3 linked regions of the Homo sapiens genome follow. The protein of the gene in region 3 interacts with the protein of the main gene of each other region in a pairwise test. Each region holds a gene or a part of one and is shown on either strand. Other genes may lie near its edges. The genes, in order: CNNM3, RBAK and ZNF330.

Region 1 (3,748 bases), on a different chromosome or scaffold from region 3:
GGGGTGGTTCTCCTGGTGTGGTGGCCAACATTGCAACCCTGGAATCAGCGGAGTAGGTTCCATCCTGCCCTTGCCTGCCCCCAGGCCCTGAAGGCTGCTCAGCCTCTTGTGGTGCAAAGTCCTCTGCTGTTAGTGATAAGAGTGGGTAAACAGACCTGCGGGGGGAGACTCATCAAGCACTTTGGCCAGTGCCTGGCGTGCATATGCTGTGTGCTTGGCGTTAGCAGGTGGTTCTTACTCCGGGACAGGCTCTGCTGGTAGGTGAGCTGTTTGCCAATCCAGGAGCAAGGGGTGAATCTGGAATTGCAGATTTCTGTTCTTCTAGGCAGGTCACCAGACTTCCTTTTTTTTAGGGAAAAAGTGGAAGACTGTAGCTGTCCTTTTGGTGTTCAAAGCACTCACGTTTCTAGATTCTTTAAGAAAAAGCTCACTCTGGTGTCTGGCTTCAGCTGGCTGCTGCTTTCAACAGTTGAGCAGTCACCAAGCAGAGATTTGGAGCAGCGGAGATGGAAGGGTTGTCCTGTTCAGAACTAAAGGCAACTTCTGTAGTTGGTCATGATGCTCAGGATGAGGCTGGTGAAAGTGGTCTTTCATTTTCCAAACCGCCAGTGTCAGGATCTTCGCTGCCATGGTCTTGTCTTTCAGATGCGATGGATGAGCTTGGTCCAGGGTGGTTGGGGATTCCACTTGGGGAAGAATAAAAAATGTTCATGTTCGTTGGGAAGGAGCGCAGAGGCAGGATGTCCCCTGGCGGGGGGGCTTGTGTGCTGTGTAAGGAACTTGTACTTGATCACCAGGGCCATGAGCATCAAGCAGCAGCATCAGTTATTTTTACAGATCAGTAACAATTGTGGACACCAGCGCAGGGAGACCAGCGGTGTGAGGGATCCAGGTGAGAGGGGATGATAACCTGAACAAGGTTCATGGCAGGCCTGGAGAGGAGCCCCAAGAGGGCAGCAGAGGTGGAATTGGGAAGATTGGTATCTGGCAGCAGGGCTATGCAACAAGGAGGAGCAGCTGAGGATGAGGCCCAGATTTCTGGCTGTGTGGTGGCGGTGCGCCTTCACTAAGGGCCGGGCGTGGGGAGCAGGTTTTGGCCATTGAATTTGTGTCTGTGCAGTGTCCCAAGAGGCAAACTCCTAGCAGGCCGTTGATGTGAAATGCAAGTGGGAGGCAGAATAGGAGTGTCTCTCAAGTCATGGGAGGGAGGCAGAGAGCCTCAGCCTCCTAGGAGCACAGGTGTGTCAGGGGCAAGGGAAGCCCAGGAGAAGCTGGCCAGGAGGAGGCAAGACCAAGGAAGGAGGAGTTCCCGAGATGCGGAATGTCCTGGAAGCTAAGGGAAGAGACCACTTTCCCAGGGAAGGTGAGTGACAGGAGAGGAGGCCAGCAAACAGGATGCCGTTGACCTTTGCAAGAGCAGATTTGGTGCCACGGCAAGGGAGCCATTTGGGGAATGAATGAGGTGTGGAAAGGTACGAGAACCAATGTAGACAGCCCTCCACAGAGTGTGGCTGCAGAGAGAAGTGACTGGCAGAGGATGTGGGACAGGGGAGGAGGCCTTCTGCTGTTTGGTTTTAAGATGGGCAAGTCCAGTAGGTTCAGATTGAAATGCAGGTTGAAATGTAGCTAGGAAGGAAATTAGAGAGGCCAGGGTCCGGGCTGCTCCTGTTCTGGGCTGGGTGGCCTCCAGGCAGGTCACAAGCAGCCCGATGCAGGAGGATTTGGGGTTGAGTGCCTCTGCTTGAAACAGACCTTTCTAAAAGCTGCCTGACAACATGCTGAAAAGGATCCCCTTGGAAGACAGTGGGGGAGGTTTTTGGAACCTGGAGGTTAAATGGGGAGCTCTTTAATCCCCCTTGACTTCCCCGCTCCTGTGGTGAGTGAGGGCCATTCGTGGGCAGACTGGCCATGTCTTTCTGGTGACATCCCGGAGCTTTTTTCTCTGCTTCTCTAGTTCAGTGCAGTCCTTTGGCAAATATCTTTATTTTTTCCGTGTTAAAGTCCTTTTTGTCCTTCCTAACCTTCTTAAGCATTCCTCCACTTAGGAACAAAGGGCATATTGCAGTCTTTGTGGCGTGTGAGGTTTTAAAAATCGATTCCCTTTCCATCTCTCTGCCAAGCTAATGAGCCTCTGAATTTCGTGGAGCTGGAGTCCCTGCCATCTTGGCAGCTTTCATTCCGGGTCTTGTTTCTTTTGCTGTGTCTGCTAGGGAACTTTGTAGTCTGGGGGCAAGGTAACCTCCCCAGCAAGGCGCCCCTCAATCAGTGCCAACTTGAGATGACGTGCTGATTATTTTGTGCAGACGTCACCAGGAAGAGTGAGTGCTTTGGAGCCATAATAAATAACTTGGACAGCTGCTCCTTGACTTACAAATGGAGTTATGTCCTGATAAACCCATTGTAAGTTGAAAATACCTTAAGTCAAAAATGTGTTTGATACATCTAACCTACCAAACCAAATAGTTCAGCCTGGCCCACCTTAAACATGCTCAGAACACTTACTTTAGCCTGCAGTTGGGCAAAGTCATCTAACACAAAACTATTTTAAAATAAAGTGTTGAATATCTCATGTAATTTATTGACTGCTGTACTGAAAGTGAAAACAGAATGGTTATATGTGTTTGAAGTATGGTTTCTACTGAATGCATATTGCTTTTGAACCATCAAATTTGAAAAATTGTAATTTGAACCATTGTTAAGTAAGGGACCTTAATGTACAAAAGAACATTATTATTATTATTATTATTTTTTTTTTTTTTTTGAGATGGAGTGTTGCTCTCTTGCCAGGCTGGAGTGCAGTGGCACAATCTTGGCTCACTGCAACCTCTGCCTCCCGGGTTCAAGTGATTCTTCTGCCTCAGCCTCCTGAGTAGCTGGGACTACAGGCGTGCACCACCACGCCCAGCTAACTTTTTTATGTTTTTAGGAGAGATGGAGTTTCACAATGTTGGCCAGGATAGTTTCGATCTCTTGACCTTATGATCCGCCCGTCTCGGCCTCCCAAAGTGCTGGGATTACAGGTGTGAGCCACTGCGCCTGGCCAAGAACATTATTATTATTATTTTTGAGACAGAGTCTTGCTCTGTCACCTGGGTTGGAGTGCAGTGATGTGATCGTGGCTCACTGTAGCCTCTACCTCCTGGGCTCAAGTGATCCTTCCACTTCAGCCTCCTGAGTAAGCTGGGGCCACAGGTGAACACCACCATCCCCAGCTAATTTTTAATTTTATGTAGAGATTGGGGTCTCCCTATGTTGCCCAGGCTGGTCTCAAACTCCTGGCCTCAAGCGATCCTCCCAGCTCAGCTTCCCAAAGAGATGGGATTACAGGTGTTTCCCACTGTGCCTGGCCGCAGTCTCTGCTTTAAAGGAACCCAGCTCTGGTTTCCTGTCTGCTGGGAGCCAGATGATTGCCATGATGCGGAAAAGAGTCTGACCAGCTCCAACAGCAGTGAGGAGCGTCAGCACACTACTTTTGTCTTTCTCACAGTATTCATTCATTCACTGAGGTGCTTTAGAAAACAGAAGAGAGAAGGTATTCCAACTGTTATTAACATCATAGAAATTGGGCATTATGAAAGGGTACTTTGGCATTCAAATAATTGGGGTACCCTGGAGCCTGCTAACTAAAATTAAACTTGAAGCTTTTCCAGGGCTTTCTGCTTGACGTTGGCAAGACACACTGTGAGCTGCTCGTGGCTCCTTGGAGCTGGCCTGTGGGCAGGCATCAGTGTGAGTGGTTCCACTCTGG
Region 2 (3,748 bases), on a different chromosome or scaffold from region 3:
AAATAGTCTGCCATCATCAAATACAACCTGCAAAAAGAAAAAAAAAATTCCCATTATACAGCTCATGTTTTTTGTGGTTTGTCTGTTTGTTGAGACAGGGTCTCAATCTGCCACCCAGGCTGGAGTGCAGTGGTGCATTCACAGCTCACTGCAGCCTCGACCTCCTGGCCTCCATTGATCCTCCCACCTCAGCCTCCTGAGTAGCTGGGACCACAGGTGCATCCCAGCATGCCTGGCTACTTTTGTATTTTTTGTAGAGTCAGGGTCTCCCTATGTTGCCTAGGCTGGTCTCTAACTCCTGGTCTCAAGGGATACTCTTGCCTTAGCCCCCGCAAAGTGCTGGGATTACAGGTGTGAGCCACTGCATCCGGCCCGCATTTTCTTATTGTCTCTTTAAACTGCTTAAAATCAAAGAAGCCATAGGAATTGAGTATGTGAGCTCTCAGAAATGAAATGAATGTGTATAAAATATGGTTTTGTTTCTAAATTATCTAACTGAACTTGGTTATTGCTGCACCTAATAATCTTCTATTAAGAAAACTAGGATACGGGAGAAAGAACACTGGCCTGGGAGATAAGACTCCTGAGTTCTACTATGAGCAACTCTACCCACAAAGCCAGTGACCCGGTCAAGTCACCCACCTGCTAAGGCCCAGTCTCTTCCCCTAGCAACTGAGGCAGCAAGAGAGAATCCCTGCAGACTGTTCCTGCATTACTACCAGTCTCCAGGGCAGATCTAAGGGGGGAATCAGCAGACACTTAAATGAGAGAACAGAGGCGCTGACGGACGTTTAGAGGAGGTCGAAATCTGGAGCACGGAAAGGAGGAGGAAGGGCTGTTAGGGGTTAGCGGGGAGTGGAGACGACGTCCGCAGCTGAGGCTGGTGACACCCTCCAGGCCCCCATAAGCCTCGTCCTCCCAGATTTCCCATGCAGCGCCTGTTCGGTGCAGCCGGACCCTGCCCTCAAACCCAAACACACGTCTCTCCTGCAAGCGATCGAGACCCTCCCCCTGCCCCACACTCTAAGGTCCCCAACACACGGTGACTTCACTCAGGCCCTTCTCGCTCCGGGCCCGAAAACCCAAGACCTACCCTTCTGGGGCTCCGCAGCCTCTGCCCCACGGCTCCCGAGAGGCCGGGGCGGGGCTGCTGTCGCTGGCGCGCGTCTGCTCGCGAGGTCCCCTCCTGTCCACCTCACTAAGGTTGTTCTGCTCCCGAGGGGCCCGGGCCGGGCCTAAGGGGCAAATCCAGGCGGGTGTCCTTCCCGGGACCCAGATCCGCCTCCCTCGGGCTCACCGTACAGCGGCAGCCTGGGCCAGGCCGCCAGGACACACACGGGCCAGGCCCGCGTCCCGCCGCCCCTTCGCCTCCGCCGCCACCTCCGCCACCTCCCGTCCGGCCCCTCTGGCCCCAGCGCCGCCGGCTCCGGGGCTCAAGCTCGGGGGTCCCCGCTCAAGCCTCCACCCGGCCCGCGCGAACCCTGGCCTGCACACCCCCGCGCCCGCCTAGGTGCTGGCCCGGGCGCTCAACCTCCAGCCCCGCAGGCTCCGCGATTCTCGTCCACTGGAGGCCAAAGCCTGGGAACTAGAGCAAGCGGTGACCTGAGGACGCACAGGAAGCGAGGGCAGTGCAGCGGCGGCGCGCATGCGCGAACACGCACACAGAGAGAGGTGCACACGCGCAGGAGTGCACCGGAAGTCAGCCTCCGGGGCCCACAGCTGGTCCCAGGACAAGCACCCTACTCTATTTCCCATGAGCCTACGCGCCCCCCAAGTTTAGGGGCCGTTTTAAATGTCTCTACCCTGCCTAAAGGTTAAGAAGCTCCAGGCTATGAGCTTTGGGAGCTCTGAACCCCTGATTGAACTTCGCATTTGTCTTTACTCCCTTTTAGGGTCAAGTCCAGGGCTGCCTGACTGGGTCCTGGAGCCCAAGGCCTCTGGGTTAGAACCGAGTTTCCCATAAAGAGAAGGAAAGGAAAGGGTGTATCGTGGTCACTGCGCTGAAATGCTAAGAGAAGTTTCACTCAAATACTAGGACAGGATAAATGCCCAGCGATGCTTTCCAAGGAAGAGAAAGAAAATAGAATTTGTGGCTGGGCGCGGTGGCTCACGCCTATAAATCCCAGCACTTTGGGAGGCCGAGGCGGGCGGATCGCGAGGTCAAGAGATAGAGACCATCCTGGCCAACATGGTGAAATCCCTTCTCTACCAAAAATACAAAAATTAGCTGGGAGTAGTGGCGTGTGCCTGTAATCCCAGCTACTCGGGGGCTGAGGCAGGAGAATAGTTTGAACTCGGGAGGTGGAGGTTGCAGTGAGCCGAGATCGCGCCCCTGGACTCCAGCCTGGCGACGGAGCGAGACTCTGTAGCTTTTCTAGATCACACAGCGAATGCCTAAAAACTGTAGAGAAATCAGGAAATACACAGATCGAACGAAGAAAAGAGATACCTGTGATCTCACCTTCCCCAGGAGGATTATGTTTAGGGTTAGGTTATGTTGACCAAAAAGACTCAAAGTCTGTCAAGAGTTTTATTCTGGGCCTCCTACTTGAGTGACCATGGCTGGTGACACAGCCTCAGGGGGTCCTGAGAACGTGAGCCCAAAGTGGTTGGGTTACAGCTTGGTTTTATACATCTTAGGGAGACAGCAGTTACAGGCAAAGACATAAATCAATACATGAGAGGTACACATTGGGTCAGCCTGGAAAGGCTTTCAGGTCACTAGCAGATTCAAAGATTGGCAGTTGGTTCAGAGTTAAGCGTTGGCTGAACAGTTGGAAAACGACATGAAGAAATGGGCCATTGCGGTGGCTCATGCCTGTGATCCCAGCATTTTGGGAGGGTGAGCTGGGAGGATCCCTTGAGGCCAGGAGTTGAAGGACAGCCTGGGCAACACAGCGAGACCCCCACCTCTACAAAAAAAAAAATTATCCAGGTGTGGTGGTGCATGCCTGTAGTCCCAGCTACTCAGGAGGCTGAGATGGGAGGATTGCTTGAGCCTGGGAAGTTGAGGCTACAGTGAGCCATGATGGTGCCACTGCACTCCAGCTTGGGCAACAGAGAAGAAAAGAAAGAGAGAAAGAGAGGGAGGAAAAGAGAGAGAGGAAGGAGGGAAGGAAGGAAAAGAAAGAGGGAGGGAAAGAAAAGAAAAGCTTGAGTTAAGATAAGGGGCATTGTGGAAACCAAGGTTCTTGTTATGTAGATGAAGCCTCAGAACAGGCTTCAGAGAGAATAGATGATAAATATCTCTTATTGGATCTTAAAAGGTGTCAGAATCTCCAGAAAAGACTTCTTTTCTGTAAGGGAAGGAGATTCTCTACAGAATGCAAATTTCCCCCAAAGAGATGGCTTTGCAGGACTATTTTAAAGTGTGTCAAAGAAAATATATTATGGGATAAAATACTATGATTTCCTTCAGGGACTGCTATCTGTCATGTGATGCTATATCAGAGTCTGGATGGAGTTGGGTATCTTACTGATACAAAGAGCCTGTTCTGTCAGTCTTATGATCTGTATTCTAGTGTTAATGTTGGTCAGCTGTGCCTAAACTCTGAAGGGAGGAGAGTATGACAAGGCATGTCCGACCCCCTCCTTCCCATCATGACCTGAATTAGTTTTTCATGTTTATTTTGGATCTTGCTGGCCGACAGGGGAGTCCATTCAGTCAGTTGTGGGGGCTTAGAATTTTATTTTTGCTTTACAATTAAAATGTCAGTTTTCAAAAATGGGATCATAAGGACAATGATTC
Region 3 (3,748 bases):
CCTATGAATTTGAGAGAGCAATTAACCAAATTCCATTAAAAAAATCTATATGAGGATTTGATTTGAATTGCATTGAATTTATAGAATATTTCAGTTCCTTATAATTTTCATATCCCAAATTGCTTATTATAATTTTGTCGTTTTATATAATGTTTTAGATTTACCCTATATATTAAATAAATTGATTATTATTACTTTTTGTATTCCCTCCTGCCTTTTAAATTCCATTTTCATCTTGTGAAGACTGCCCTTTGAAATTCTTTCACTGAGTATCTGTGAATAGTAAAGGTTCTTTGTCTTTGTCAGAATATTTATTTTGCCATCACTCTTGGTAGTGAATACTGGCAGGCACTACCCAGATCCCTCTTCCTCAATGAAAGACTTATTTCCTGAGCTGCTGAGAGTGCAGCAAGCCAACACAATCCAGCTCTTGGCCATCTTCAGGAGTCCTTTAACCCAAGGTTGCACTCTTCTCCTTTGGCAGCGTTCATCCAGTGACTAAATGTCATAGGTGTATAAAGGTCCAGCCCAGTTCCCCTAACTCAAGACAACTCTGAAGGGATATCCCAGATTCAAAACGAGGCCTTCACTGAGACGTCACTGCAGGTCAACTCTTCCCTCTGCTCAATCCTGCTTCCATTTCTCCTGCAGATGTTGTTCCCCAAAGCATTCCCTAACATACTCATTATACTCTTCTCTGACTCAGAGTATGCTTCCTGGGGAAGCCAACCTAAAACAGTTGGTGTCAGGAGTGGTTCAAGTTAGGCTAAGATGGGATTTATGATTCGAATCACAGGCCATGTGACTATCAATGAGGACCCCCTCGGTGGTAGGTGTAGGACACACAGACCTCGGCACAAGGTAACAGTGCAATAGTTACAACTTTCATCAGTAATGAAACTGGGGTGGTATTCTAACGTAACTGGGGTGGTATTCTAATTTATATACGAGTAGGTAAAATGTATCAGGCATTTGAGAACTATGAGGGAAATAGTAACCTTAATGACAGTGGCATTGACTGTTATTGCTAAGTAAAATTGATTCTTTGAAAATAGCAAAAGGCTGAGATGGTTAATTGGCTATCAAAATCTAAGAGTAAATTCCAGAAGGCCTCTTTGGTCCAAATAAAGAGGCTTTTATCTCCTGCAGGGGGAGGGCAGGAAAAGCACAGGAATAGGCCTGGTACTGAATCCTAAGTGCGGCAGAGCTCCGAAAGAGATTAGGAAACCCAGCTTGGTCGGCTATGCAAAGGTGGAGGTGCTTGATCGGAAGGAGATTCTGATGCAGGGGGAGGATCATCAGGTTTCAGTTAAAAGCAGGCAGATTACACATTAGAGGTAGAGAATGTGGGATGATTTGTTCACAAAGGAATGGAATCCAGAGGGCATAACAGAAATAAGAGACAGGGGAGGCTGGTACGGAAGTTCATCAGGCAACTGAAGGCACAGTTTGCGCAGCAACCAAGAAAAGGTGGGATGTGAGGCACGCAAGATGTAGAGGTGGGGAAAGGTTTCCAACAGAATTCAACATGAATTTGCTGTTTGAGTCAATTGATCCAGTACCAAGTCTGTGAGTTCATTTTCCTCTTCCTTTTAGATTTCTCCTTTTTCTAAAAAAGTAAAACTGAGGGGGCCTTCCCCTGCTTTCCCTCCTTCTGCTTCCCTATTTTCCCTCGCATTCCCTTCCTTTTCTGCAGATCCTCTGCTTAGGAATGGGGCATTGGCCCCCGCAGGAGTGGGCGGGGAAGGGGCGGAGCGAACAGAGGTGGGCGGCTCCCGTCCTATGACGTCAGCCGTAAGGCGCTGCTGTCGTAAAAGGACGTCCGGTCCGTCTCCTAGTGTCCGGAATCGGCTGTCAGCCTCCCTGGCTGTTAGTACCTTCTTTCCCGGAGTCCTGGTCCACGAGTTGGATTTACTGCTGTCGCGGGTGGGCCTCACGCCATTCCCTGTCCCTCGGCCCCCTGAGTGAGTCCGGTCTCCCGGCGAAAGTGAGCGAGGTTTGCCCGGAGCGCGCACGAGGTAGGGTGTCCCGCGGGCGGGTGACGGTTGCGGGTCCCCGTTGCGGGTCCCCGAGCCGCCTGGCACCTCCGCCGCTTCTCCCCTGGACGCCCCTCCGCCCCACTGGGTCCTCCAGCTCCAGGCTGGACTCCTAAAGCCGCAGTGCCCCGTGCCTGTTTCCTCATTTGGTGACACACGCAGTGCATGCAAGAAGTTGGAGTGTTACCGGAAAAGGGCTTGAACCCGTATAAGGCTGAGAAGAAGATTCACTCTTTTGAGCGTGCAGAACAAACTGGAGGGAAAAAAAAATGAGATTTAACTTTATCAGAGGATTCAGAGGATATCTCTGAGGACGCAGAAAGTTAATCCGCATGATCACCTCGTGATTATTTTCTGAGGTTCTTTGGCCAGGGCAGCACGCCCTCTAGATTTTGTCATTTTACATATTGGAATGGTGCCTTAGTGGTCTGGGCGTTACGTTACCGAAATAACCACCTATTAAATCTGGCTATTTTTCAGTTGCTACCGTACTGCTTACCACCTGTTTTGTTTTTTTTTTAATTGAGCATTCAGTTCAGAAAACTTCAGTTTAGAAAAATCTTGTATTTCAACTAAATGATGAAAATTAAACATACTCTTAAACGTAAATTTGAACCCCGTTAAAATTACATGCTCACTGCGTGTAGAGGGAAGAGCATTTGTTAAAGTCAGAGCAACTAATACCTTAAATATCTTCAGAATGTTTTGACTTTGTAGTTAATAAATAGTGTTATTTGTTGACTGTTAGATGTTTTGTTTACATATTACATAGGAAAAATTAAACTTGTTATACTTAAGGTGTTGGCAGCGTCAGGTCATCTGAATATATAGCTCAAAAAAGTGATATAAACTGGCTAAATAATGCTCTTATTAATGATTTTTTTGTTTTTGCTAATGATACATGATTCATTTGTTTTAATGAGGTGCAGAATACTTTATCATTGGAGAAACTTTTTTCTTAGTGGGAAAAGAAGACTAGTTTGTCTTTTAGGGTAAATTTTTTTGACGTTTACATTTTTAGAATCGTTAGTGCCAATAAATGCGTTAAGGATCACCCGCTTCATTTGGAATAATATGTGCTTAACGTTTCATAAGGCTTAGAATGTGCTTAACTATCGAAAGGATAGAGTTTAACATTTAACAAGAAAAAGGACACTTTGTTATACTATTTCTTAGTTTATTAAAATAGTAAATGCAGTCAGTCAATTATATCTTTTCTGTTCTCTTGTGTCAAAATAGGGGAAAATGCCTAAAAAAAAGACTGGTGCGAGGAAGAAGGCTGAGAACCGCCGAGAACGTGAAAAACAACTAAGAGCATCAAGAAGCACTATAGATTTAGCTAAACATCCATGTAATGCCTCAATGGTATCAGCTTTTTTTGATATCAGTTGGTAGTTGGAAAAACTATATACTATTTTATCTGACGTATACCTGAATAAAATTTTAGTGAAGACAGTGTTTTTGCATATAGTTTGTTGCTGAATTTAGTATCTCTGGCACGTCTGTTGATTTCACTGAGTGGCAGTGATTGTTGTTGGATTTTATATTATTATAAAACCTAGCATATTACTTTACATACTGTTGGTGATAAAGGTAGATATTGGACAAGAATAGATAATAGAAACTTTCATCTTCCAGTTTCTTTAATGCCTTAGTCTTATTGGGTTTTCATCATATTTTCTTAGCAATTCTTTCATTTCTCTTTTCTGAAC

Evidence for each region.
Region 1: the proteins of ZNF330 (region 3) and CNNM3 interact in binary tests that used the Homo sapiens proteins (3 or more experiments, as listed by UniProt).
Region 2: the proteins of ZNF330 (region 3) and RBAK interact in binary tests that used the Homo sapiens proteins (3 or more experiments, as listed by UniProt).

Annotation. Positions count from the first base shown.
Region 1 is NC_000002.12:96,819,261-96,823,008, forward strand, and holds part of CNNM3 (metal transporter CNNM3 isoform 1 precursor), read left to right. Parts: intron 1-3,748. UniProt on the Homo sapiens protein: Probable metal transporter.
Region 2 is NC_000007.14:5,043,742-5,047,489, reverse strand, and holds the start of RBAK (RB-associated KRAB zinc finger protein), read right to left. Parts: upstream 1,631-3,748; 5' UTR 1,094-1,630; intron 1-1,093. UniProt on the Homo sapiens protein: May repress E2F-dependent transcription. May promote AR-dependent transcription.
Region 3 is NC_000004.12:141,219,091-141,222,838, forward strand, and holds the start of ZNF330 (zinc finger protein 330), read left to right. Parts: upstream 1-1,804; 5' UTR 1,805-2,018; intron 2,019-2,066; exon of another isoform or gene 2,067-2,395; intron 2,396-3,275; 5' UTR 3,276-3,281; coding exon 3,282-3,401; intron 3,402-3,748.